Regions from separate parts of the Homo sapiens genome. Here region 1 is linked to region 2. The links come from fine-mapping of genetic effects on gene expression. Tissue or cell type: whole blood. Region 2 holds a variant in brackets; the other region holds the start of a gene. All regions are shown on one strand. Distances are between the middles of the regions.

What was found. PIP is the estimated chance that this variant, and not a neighbour inherited with it, causes the effect.
Region 1: it holds the start of SLC4A5, and the variant in region 2 is the best candidate, but not a certain one, in a credible set for the expression of SLC4A5 in whole blood (INTERVAL, PIP 0.59).

What each region holds. Positions count from the first base shown.
Region 1 is chr2:74,341,229-74,346,425 of GRCh38, reverse strand. SLC4A5 (solute carrier family 4 member 5) reads left to right here and starts at 3,010. Exons shown (of 31, transcript NM_133478.3): 1 at 3,010-3,070; 2 at 3,892-3,968.
Region 2 is chr2:74,369,924-74,374,923 of GRCh38, reverse strand. It overlaps DCTN1 (dynactin subunit 1), which reads left to right. Exons shown (of 32, transcript NM_004082.5): 6 at 584-601; 7 at 1,976-1,996; 8 at 3,196-3,387; 9 at 3,748-3,945; 10 at 4,099-4,303; 11 at 4,380-4,458; 12 at 4,579-4,738; 13 at 4,855-4,959. Among named protein-coding and RNA genes, the nearest start is that of DCTN1, 7.9 kb to the left of the region's middle. The variant G/A (reference allele first, on the strand shown) is at 2,683.

The sequences.
Region 1 (5,197 bases), 29 kb after region 2:
AACATGGCGAAACCCCATCTCTATTAAAAATACAAAAATTAGCCTGACATGGTGGCGCATGCCTGTAATCCCAGCTACCTGGGAGGCTGAGGCATGAGAATCACTTGAACCTGAGAGGCAGAGGTTACAGTGAGCTGAGATGGTGGCCAGTGCACTCCAGCCTGGGTGATAGAGTGAGACTCCATCTCAAAAATAAATAAATAAATAAATAAATAGAAAAAAGAAACACATCAATAGAAACATAGATATGAATAGGAAATTCACAAAAAATACACTTACCAAGTTAAATCAACCTTAAGTAAAAAATTCGTTCAAGATTGTAAAGTGAACTGTTAACATTTACTTCTCTTTCCTCCCTAAGTCCAACTGGAACTACATTTTTTAAATGAAAAAAAGTAAAGTATGCAACCTCATGAGAGAACTTGAAAAAAAAAAAGTAAAAAGGAAAAATATCCAAAGCAAAAAAAAAAAAAAAAAAAAAGCATTCCAAAGCAGTGCTGGAATACGAGGAGGGGTTTACAGTATACTTCTTTGGACCTGACGCCTAGCACTTTTCCCTTCTGAGAGAAAATCTGCCATCCCCACTTTAGTCGCCTGGTTCATGTGGGAAACTGAGGCTTAGAGACAGCAGAGCTGGGGAGTGGCAGCAGGATATTGTGGCAGGTGGTGGCAGTCGGGGACTTCAGGCTGTGGTCTCACACCGCCACACTGCCTTTCCCTTTTCTCACAGAGAACATTCAAATGGCTGTCTTTCTCTGGCAAGGTAGAAAGCCTCTCAAATAAGTAAGGAACATGCTTTGGTTAACAGCTAACGAGGCATTAGGTCTGGACAGGGAGACAAGCAGTGCAGCAGCCAAATCCCAGTGGACACTAGACACGAGGAAGAAAGCACGGTGCTGCCAGGGCAGGTCCTCCTCCCTCCTTCCTCCTTCCTCCATTAGGAGGATTCCTGAGCCTGCAAACCTGTTCCCTTTGTGCATCCTGGAGGGACAGCCCCTGCCCCATACCTTCCAATACCCTCACCAAACCAGATGAAGCTCACCCTCAAATTCCTGTGTGAAGTGAGAGACAAAAAAACCCCAAACCTGAAGTGTCTGAAATAAATGTCCAAATTATTTGAACAAAACCTGGGTAGGTAGAAACCAAAGGGTTTCACTTGAATGCTTGGCAGTAACGTCTCAACTGGTCTTTCCACCTGTGCTACAATCCACTGTGAAGTCCATTATTCCATTCTTGTACCAAGTCCCCTTCCACATTCCTTTCACTTCAGACATGTTTGCTGATGTTTACACCTCTCCATAGACTACCCAGCCTATCGTCGCATGCCCAAAGCTTTATTTCCCCAAACCTGCCCTGTGCCAGGGAAACTGCTCTCCAGTTCTCAGGATATTTATGCTATGTTCTCCCACCTCTTATGTCTATATTTTTTGTGGCTTCTTCCCTCTGCCTCAGATACCCCTTGGTAGTTCTACTGTTCTAAATCCTACCCCTATCCTATCCCTTCACTGCATCTCCAAGGCCATTTTCTCCACAAAGCTTTTCTTTAACACATGGGGCTGGTAGGTAAGCCATGAACATTTGTGGAACAAGGTAATCCTCCAAACAAGGGTGATTTTTCTTTCACTGAACCCTTCCCTCCCTTTGTGCTTCTTTTTGGAGCCTCACACTCTTCTGAATTTGTTGAATCCCCAACCAGCTGGAAATTCCCTAAGGCCCGAAACTGTTTCTGGCCTAGGCTGTGCTGATCTTCCTGGGACTAAGGGGTTTCCTGGGTCACAGATCTTCTGTGCTAAAACCAGGAAAGCCTCTGGTGACCCAGCATGTGTTGATCTCCCTAGTCTTGCCTGTCTTTGATTCCATGGATTATTAACAGAAACTATAATGTTGGGTTAATGTGTTGGCTTGGGCATGGCCTCCGAAACATGTTTTTTACATGTCTGCCACCAGCAGGCTCTAGATCCAGGAATGAGGCTTTTCCACTAAGGGAAAACTCCACGTGATCTAGGAAGAAAGTGAGGATATCCAACCAGATGATAAATTTCCTATCTGAAAGAGAAGGTCAACCCTGAAATAAGGAGGCTGAAGACCCTTAGAGAAGCCACAGAAGAGACTGGAAGAAGAGGGGTAGAGTTGCTTTTTTAATGGGGCTTCCAGCTCCTACTTTTCTTCCTGTCTGTAAGTCTCTGAGCTTCTGTTCCAGCTCTGTAAGGTTGGGGACGAGAATGCTCTCCCCACTGGACTGTTGAGAGTTCAATGAGGGGAAATGTGTGCATATACCAGGCCCCATGCTGGGTGCCCAGAGACGCTGCGCCTTCCTGGCATGCTTCTCTTCCCCATCGCTCAGCACCGCGTCCCTCACTCCCTCCACTCCCGATTCTCACTTCCTACTCACTGGCTTCTTCCTTCCCATCTTCCTCCAAACTTCCCATTTTCCACTATGTCTCTCTCACCGTATCTTTTTCACTTAAACAAAAATGGAATTCATAAAAACAGAGGCCAAAAGTCAGGATAAACCTGGAAAAATCACCAAGTACGCAAAGTTTTTCTTGCAAGGTTTGGTTTTTTCAAATGCCTTCTTTGTTTTCCTTGCCCATATCCTTCTTCGGAGAGTCAGGATTTGGGGTTTGCAGAGCTGTGTGGCAGTGGAATGTGGAATGTTCTCCTGAATCTCAGTCCCATGAAGAAAAGAGGCAAAAGTCCTGACATCTTTCCTGAGGATTGTCTGATTTAAAAGAGCTGATTCTCCCCAGGCAAATGACTTACCTTTGTTGTGCTGGGACAAGCTGAACAGGCAAGGAATAAACCTCCCTAGAACACACTGATTAGATTAGCCAGTGAGAACCACTGAAGACGCAGACATTAGATTAAAAAACAGAAAAATGAATGTTACTTTTACAGTGGCTATGAATAGACAAAGACTTTTTGGTTTGAAAATAGTTGGTGAGGCAATAGAGGAGGGGCTATGTTAATAGCAGAGATAGAAAAAACGAGAGGTGGATGGTTCCAACTGCAAGGTCCACCCTAAAGGAATTGGAGTCAGGGCCCAGGAGCCACAGGCCACTGCACTGGGGTAAGTAGAGTGGATTTTACATAAATAAAGTTACAGAGTGGTTGTAGGTTCTGGTTTGGAGATGTGAGTGAACCAACTGAATAGAATAGGCAGATTCCCCAGCCCACCAAGAGTCAGATGAGAATTTTATTGCTTTTTGCTAAAGGCCTGTACAAGACTTAGAGCAAAGATAAGGAGTAACCTGATTGTTGAAACTAATCTATAAGTATTCCAACATAGCAAAGGACAAGTAACGGAATGACGAGGTTTTCCTGTAGTAGTGTTGCGATTTTGTTCTGCTGTGTCCCCCTACTCCAGTTTCCTCTGTGAGGGGAGCGTGTAGTGTGTGCATATCTGTGGAATGTCAGACTTCTAAAGTCAGGGGCTGAGACCTATATCTAGTTAGACCTCTGTGCATATTCTTGAGCCATGGGAGTCTCAGTGGTTGATAGTACTTCACACTTCTTCCAGTTCAATAAGGGTTACCTATGGTGTCTCCTCTGAGTCTCCTAGGAGTCCAGAAAACATGAGACTTGTATAAGAATCCACACTTCAACTAAGCTTTCTGGCCCAAAGAAGGCATTGTTACCAAGGATCTGTTTCTTGAGGTCTTTAGGGAGTGAGAGGGAAGGAACGCATGAGGAACCAGAGCTAGTCCCCATCTCTCTCCCTAGAAGTGACAGACTGCATAGCTCTTATGTATCAGGAGTCCTGGAGATCAGCTGGCTTTCCTTAAAAAAGGGTCATCCAGCCGTGATGAAATCCTGACTTAGAAACCCAGTGCCCTTAGCTTTGTGGGCTTCTGTCCCTGAGAAATGGTGTTTTACCCTCCCTCCAAGCAGGCATCCCAGGATTTGGAATTCAGCTGTGAGCTCATGAGCTGATGGATGTTTCCAGGAGTACCCTGAAGACCACCCAGGTATGCTCTCCCCACCTCCTTTATTTTGGATGGACCAGTCTAAGGAGAGTCATCTTTTCCCACACCATTGGTGGCACTCAGTGAGTGGCTTGTTGCTTGACTGAATGCCTGCCCACACCCTCTCCAGTCAAGTTTATCTTGAGTAACTAAACACTTAGCAATGGAGACACTCATACATCTCCACTGCACTAGAAGTAGGGATGGTGGCCATGCCAACAAAGGAGATAACTTTAGCACAAAGGATGTCACAAGAAACAGATAGTAGAGTGTGTTCTCCAGTGTTATCATTTCCCAAACCAGAATCAACTGGTCTTGGGTTTCCTTCCCTCATCCTTCATCTGTAGAAAACTTTGTTTCTTGAGCTACTTCAGATCTACTTCCCTATCTTAAGAGGTGGGCTATGTGCTTCTTCTGCTAATTTATTATCTCAGAAGTACATAATTTGAGCAATTTTATATAGTTTTGAGGACAGGAGCCCTGTAAGAGTCTCTTACTCAGAAATGGATTCAGCTTGGTTTGAGGTTTAATAGGTCATTGCAATGCTCCCTTCTGGTATCACAGGACATAAGCTGGGTTGGGCGGAGTCCCCCTTTTGTGTCTTAGCCTTCCTCTCCTTACTCCAGAGTAAGAGCAGCCCTGATGGAAAAACAAAATTACCATCCATGCCTACTTCATTTCTGCCCCTCTTACTCTAAGTCTGGGCAATCCGCAACATCTTTTTATATTGGACTTCCTAGATCACAGACTCTTTTTTTAGGAAGAGTCAATTCAAGCCACCCAGGACTTATGATCCCTTGCTCTGTGTCGGGCACAGTGTGAGCACAGTAATGGCATGGGCTGCCTGATGTGGGGCAGTCCCTCTTGGTCAGCAATTCACTCAGCAGCCATCTCAGTGCCCCCTGTGTAAATTTGAGGCACTTTGCCAGGCTGTGGGAACAGTGTGGGGTTAAACAGCACATGGTCCTTGCCCTCAGAAAGCTTAAAATCCAAAGTCAGATACAAGGTTATTTAACAGATGCGTGTTAATTAACAATTAAAGCTAATGTGCACTGTTCCATTGAACAAACATGACTTATGTGGTAAAATCAGAAAGCAGCTTGATTTTTGTCTCTTACTGCTCTTTTACATTTACTCTTTTTTTTTTTTTTTTTTTGAGATGGAGTCTCGCTCTGTCGCTAGGCTGGAGTGCAGTGGCACAATAATTGGCTCGCTGCAACCTCCACCTCCTG
Region 2 (5,000 bases):
TAGAATGCCATTTCTGGGATAGCCCCTGGCCCAGTTTTTTGGAGCACGCTCTTGGGGGTGGGCAAGGGAGGGAAGAGAGGAGCCAAAACCTGTTCTTTGGAGAAAGAAGCAGGACAAGCTCTGCGCATGACTGTCATGAGGAGGAGGAGCCAGCAAAGCCCTAGATGGTTGCTAGGTGACTGAGGAGCAGTGGCTCCACCCCCATGGAGCAGAGGAGGGTGGGTGCATGACGTCAGGTGGAGCTGGTGCTGCGGCCACTGAGGCTGCCATCAGCCTAAGCTGGTGAACTGGGCCAGGCACCGCTCCGGTGCCTGCCGGAGCCTGGCGATCCAGCTGCACGTCTGCGGGGGCCTCTGTGTCAGAGCGGCGGCCGTTTGCAGGCTGGGAAGCTGCCGCACCGGGAGGCTGAGACTGCATTGTTGGGATTTGATGCACTAATCTCCTGTCTCCGCCGCCTTTCCCTCTGTTCGGTCTCTTGCCCTCCCTCCCTTCGTCTGTCCTTCCTCCGTGTGTTTGTCTATCCTCCTCTGTCCCTCCTCTTTCCTCTCCTTGCTTTCTTTGGTTTTCTGCAATGATGAGACAGGCACCGACAGCCCGAAAGGTACTCTTGCTTGCTCTCGTCCTGCTGCTGGGTTGCCAGGGCAATGGTGGCAGCAGGCTGCTGGGGTGGGGGTGGGGGCTGATTGACTTCATCTGTCTACCTGGTCGGGGAGGCGGGTGAGGACGAAGGTGGGTTAGGGAGAGGTGTGTGTCACCACTATGCCCCACACCCTGGGCATTTGCTTACTGCCTTGCCTGCTTTTGGCTCTGCCTGTGTTCCAGGCCTTAACACCCAGTGGCCTCACAGGCTTGGGCTTCAGGCAGCCTCTACCGCATACCGGATCTGGGAGGGTTTCCTGTGGTAGAACCTAGGGAAGCAGGCCCAGGTATCTCAGTGCCTCTAGCAGGCCTGCCTGCCTCACCCAACCTTTGCTAGAATACCTCTTGGTTGTTCTCCCAGTATCCCCCAATCCCCAGGATTTGTATCAGGGCACTTTACCAGGGTGGGATGGGGAACCTAGAATAGTCTTTGACCCACAGCTGTGGAAGCTTAGCCCAGGGTAGAAGAGGTGGGAATTGGCCTCAGTGTATGCTGGAAATAGGGCCCAAGCCAAATCTTGTCTTGGCTAGAGCAGTGAGATACTGGGTAGCAAGAACACTATTTGGAAATTGGAGTTAATTGTCCACTTACCATTTTGCAGTAACCTGAAGGGGCTGTAGTTTCTCTGTGCTGCTGCCCACCCCCACCTCCTTTCCTACAGCTGGGTGGGGTTACTTTGCTGAGCTCTGGGCTTCTGCTAATGCAATATTCATGGTCCTGACACCTGAGCCCTCTTCCCTAGTGATCGGGACTGCTGCAGGATCTGGTTCTGGGGAAGGGGGTTGGGGGAGGGAGGACAGCAGCATTGTTCTACCCTAGGGACCTGATCTCCCATTTCTGGGCTTAGATTACGCTCGTCACATGGGGTTTCTAGGGAGTTCTGTGTAGAGTCTAGCACTTGAAGGAAGAGGCTGACCTGGGAAAGTCCTTGGGAGTGGTGGCTGGGCGGGGCCTCTGGCTCTGGACTGGAGTTGGAGAGATCGTTAGCAGGAGGACTGGTCTCATGGGACCTTCTCACTAGCTGCTTCCTTGTTCTATGGCTCAGCCTAGAGATGGACTTCTGGGATTTCTGGGGTGTCTGAAGGGGTGAGGCCTGCAAGGATTGGACAAAAGTGGGAGCAGGAACCAAGGGGAACAGGAATTCTGGGTTCCTGAAGTAGGAATACAGTGATTCACTGAAGGGAGAAGGGGATGGGATGGGGGGGAGGGTGGCTAACTGTAGCCCCATTCCTGTTATTTCTTCTGCTCTCATTGCTGTCCCTTTTGCTCTCTGTCTTTCTGCCATTGTCCTTTCTTTCCTGACTACTTCTCTTCTGGCTCCTGTTGCCTGTCCAGACCACAACTCGGCGACCCAAGGTGAGAAAACAGGCCCCTGTGTGAGCCACTGCTGAGTGTACACACACGTTTCAGGCATGTGGATGTATGAGGGCACGTGTATGAGCAAGTGAAAGTTCGTCATAGTGTATCCTGGGTTCTCTTCAGAGGAAAGGGTGGGGGTTCGCAGTGCTGGCAGGCACCTCCTGGGGAAAATGGCTTTTGGCTTTTAGGAGGTTGTCTAAGCCAGTAGCTTGAATGCAAAAGAGAAATGAATGGGGTTGTGGTGGTTAATCAAAGCAGGCTTTCTTGAACAAGGGAATTTTGACCAGTTTTGATGGGAGGGATTGGAAGAAAGATGAACTTGGCCATGTAAAATGTCAGGGGATAAGGAGGTGAGTGTGTCTGTGACAGGCCTTGGGTGGGGATGTCTGAGGATTGCACATGATCTCTGAGTGTCAGCCCACTGGGAGACCTTGGGGCTCAGCACTTTGAGCACATTGGCAGGCCTGTCTGCTCCAGGGCTTGAACTTCAGGTCAGCTCCTCTGCCCACCTTCTCCCCTGCCCCACAGGGGCATGGATAGTGTTGCCAGATCGGGGGAGATGACGAAGAGTTGTTTCAAGGGGGAGTCTAGGGGTACAACTTTCACCTTGGCCCTTTTACCTGCAGGGTCCTCTGAAATAGACTGAGAGAGGGAGATTCAGCTTGACTCCCAAAGAGGGCTTA[G/A]CAGGGGTAGAGAGCCTGGCACCCCCACTTTTGGCCCAACCTTCTGTGGAAATTAGATTGTACTTTTTCCGTCTAGGGGTGGAGGGCATAGACCTGGAGCAAGGATGGGACTGAGAGTATAATGGAGTTGCTAGAATGATCACAAGTGGGTCATAGATGGGGGTTCTAGGGAATAACGGATTCTGCTCTTAAGGGTAGTGCCAGAGCTAGGAGGAATGTGGAGTCAGTGCCAAGCGAGGAGCCTTATAATCTTATGTCTTTCTCTTATCTTTTCCTCCCTCTCTCCTCTGCCTCCATCCTCCCCCTGTCCTTTGTCACTATCTCTCTCTGCCTCTCTGTATCATTTTCCTTGTCCCCTTCATTCTTCTTTTCTCACTGTGCTTTGATACTCTCTTTCTGCTTTTTCCCTTTTCTGTCTCCTTCCCTTGCCATATTCTCATATTCTGTTTCTGTTCCTCTTACTACCCCTATCCTCTGCTTTCTTTCTGGTCTGCCTCTACCCTTTCTGAATAGCCCACGCGCCCAGCCAGTACTGGGGTGGCTGGGGCCAGTAGCTCCCTGGGCCCCTCTGGCTCAGCGTCAGCAGGTGAGCTGAGCAGCAGTGAGCCCAGCACCCCGGCTCAGACTCCGCTGGCAGCACCCATCATCCCCACGCCGGTCCTCACCTCTCCTGGAGCAGTCCCCCCGCTTCCTTCCCCATCCAAGGTAAGGCCTGGGGTAGGGGTAAAGGAGAATCAAGACACCCAGAGGCTTGTGGCTACCCGCTGTGTCTTGAAAATTTCCTGGGGTTGGCAAAGACCTAGAACTTGGATCAGAAAGGGTGAGGACATAGCCTATGGATATCTTGCTACTGACTGAGCCATCCTTTCCTTTCTTGCCCTTATGCCATACTTTCCCCATATATACTGTGCTACGGTTTCCTCTCAGATGTTCTTATGCCACTGACTGTTGGCCACCCTGGGGCTGGGTGATGTTTGCACACTTTCTTGTGTTCTTTGCGCCAGCTCAGTGTTGGTGGAGAGGAGGAGTGGGCTGTGCACAGACCGTGAGGCCTCTCCTTTGCAGGAGGAGGAGGGACTAAGGGCTCAGGTGCGGGACCTGGAGGAGAAACTAGAGACCCTGAGACTGAAACGGGCAGAAGACAAAGCAAAGCTAAAAGAGCTGGAGAAACACAAAATCCAGCTGGAGCAGGTGCAGGAATGGAAGAGCAAAATGCAGGAGCAGCAGGCCGACCTGCAGCGGCGCCTCAAGGAGGCGAGAAAGGTTTGACTCTGGATGAAGGGGGTGGCTGGGGCAGCCTGAGACCTAAGGAAGCATGCTGGAAACTAGACTGGAGCTGGAGCCTGGAACATACTGTGAGAAAGGCCTGGGGCATCTCTGTGCTGGTACCCCCTCCCACCTCCACTTCTTCCTCAGGAAGCCAAGGAGGCGCTGGAGGCAAAGGAACGCTATATGGAGGAGATGGCTGATACTGCTGATGCCATTGAGATGGCCACTTTGGACAAGGAGATGGCTGAAGAGCGGGCTGAGTCCCTGCAGCAGGAGGTGGAGGCACTGAAGGAGCGGGTGGACGAGCTCACTACTGACTTAGAGATCCTCAAGGCTGAGATTGAAGAGAAGGGTAAGGGGCCCACAGCTGCTGGGGGCCAAACGGTCAGGTGAGAACCATGCCTGAAAGTGTTAATGATCTTCTCCAGGCTCAGATGGCGCTGCATCCAGTTATCAGCTCAAGCAGCTTGAGGAGCAGAATGCCCGCCTGAAGGATGCCCTGGTGAGGTAGGGTCTTCAGTGCTTGCCTCTGATGCTTACTCTTGTGTCTCCAAATGTGTTAGAGCACCCATCGCCAGAGACTCTGACACGTGCTTTCCTCCTTCTGCCTTCCTCACATCCCTGCAGGATGCGGGATCTTTCTTCCTCAGAGAAGCAGGAGCATGTGAAGCTCCAGAAGCTCATGGAAAAGAAGAACCAAGAGCTGGAAGTTGTGAGGCAACAGCGGGAGCGTCTGCAGGAGGAGCTAAGCCAGGCAGAGAGCACCATTGATGAGCTCAAGGAGCAGGTCTGGGGAGCCCAGCCCCTCACCCAGAATCCCCCACCTGACTCTCCTATCAGTTGATGCCTCCTCTTTCTAGGTACCTTCCAGCAGCCCTTCTCCCTATCCTCCCCGTAACACAGGTGGATGCTGCTCTGGGTGCTGAGGAGATGGTGGAGATGCTGACAGATCGGAACCTGAATCTGGAAGAGAAAGTGCGCGAGTTGAGGGAGACTGTGGGAGACTTGGTAAGAGAAGAGCAGACCCCTGACATCTGACTTGGACCTGC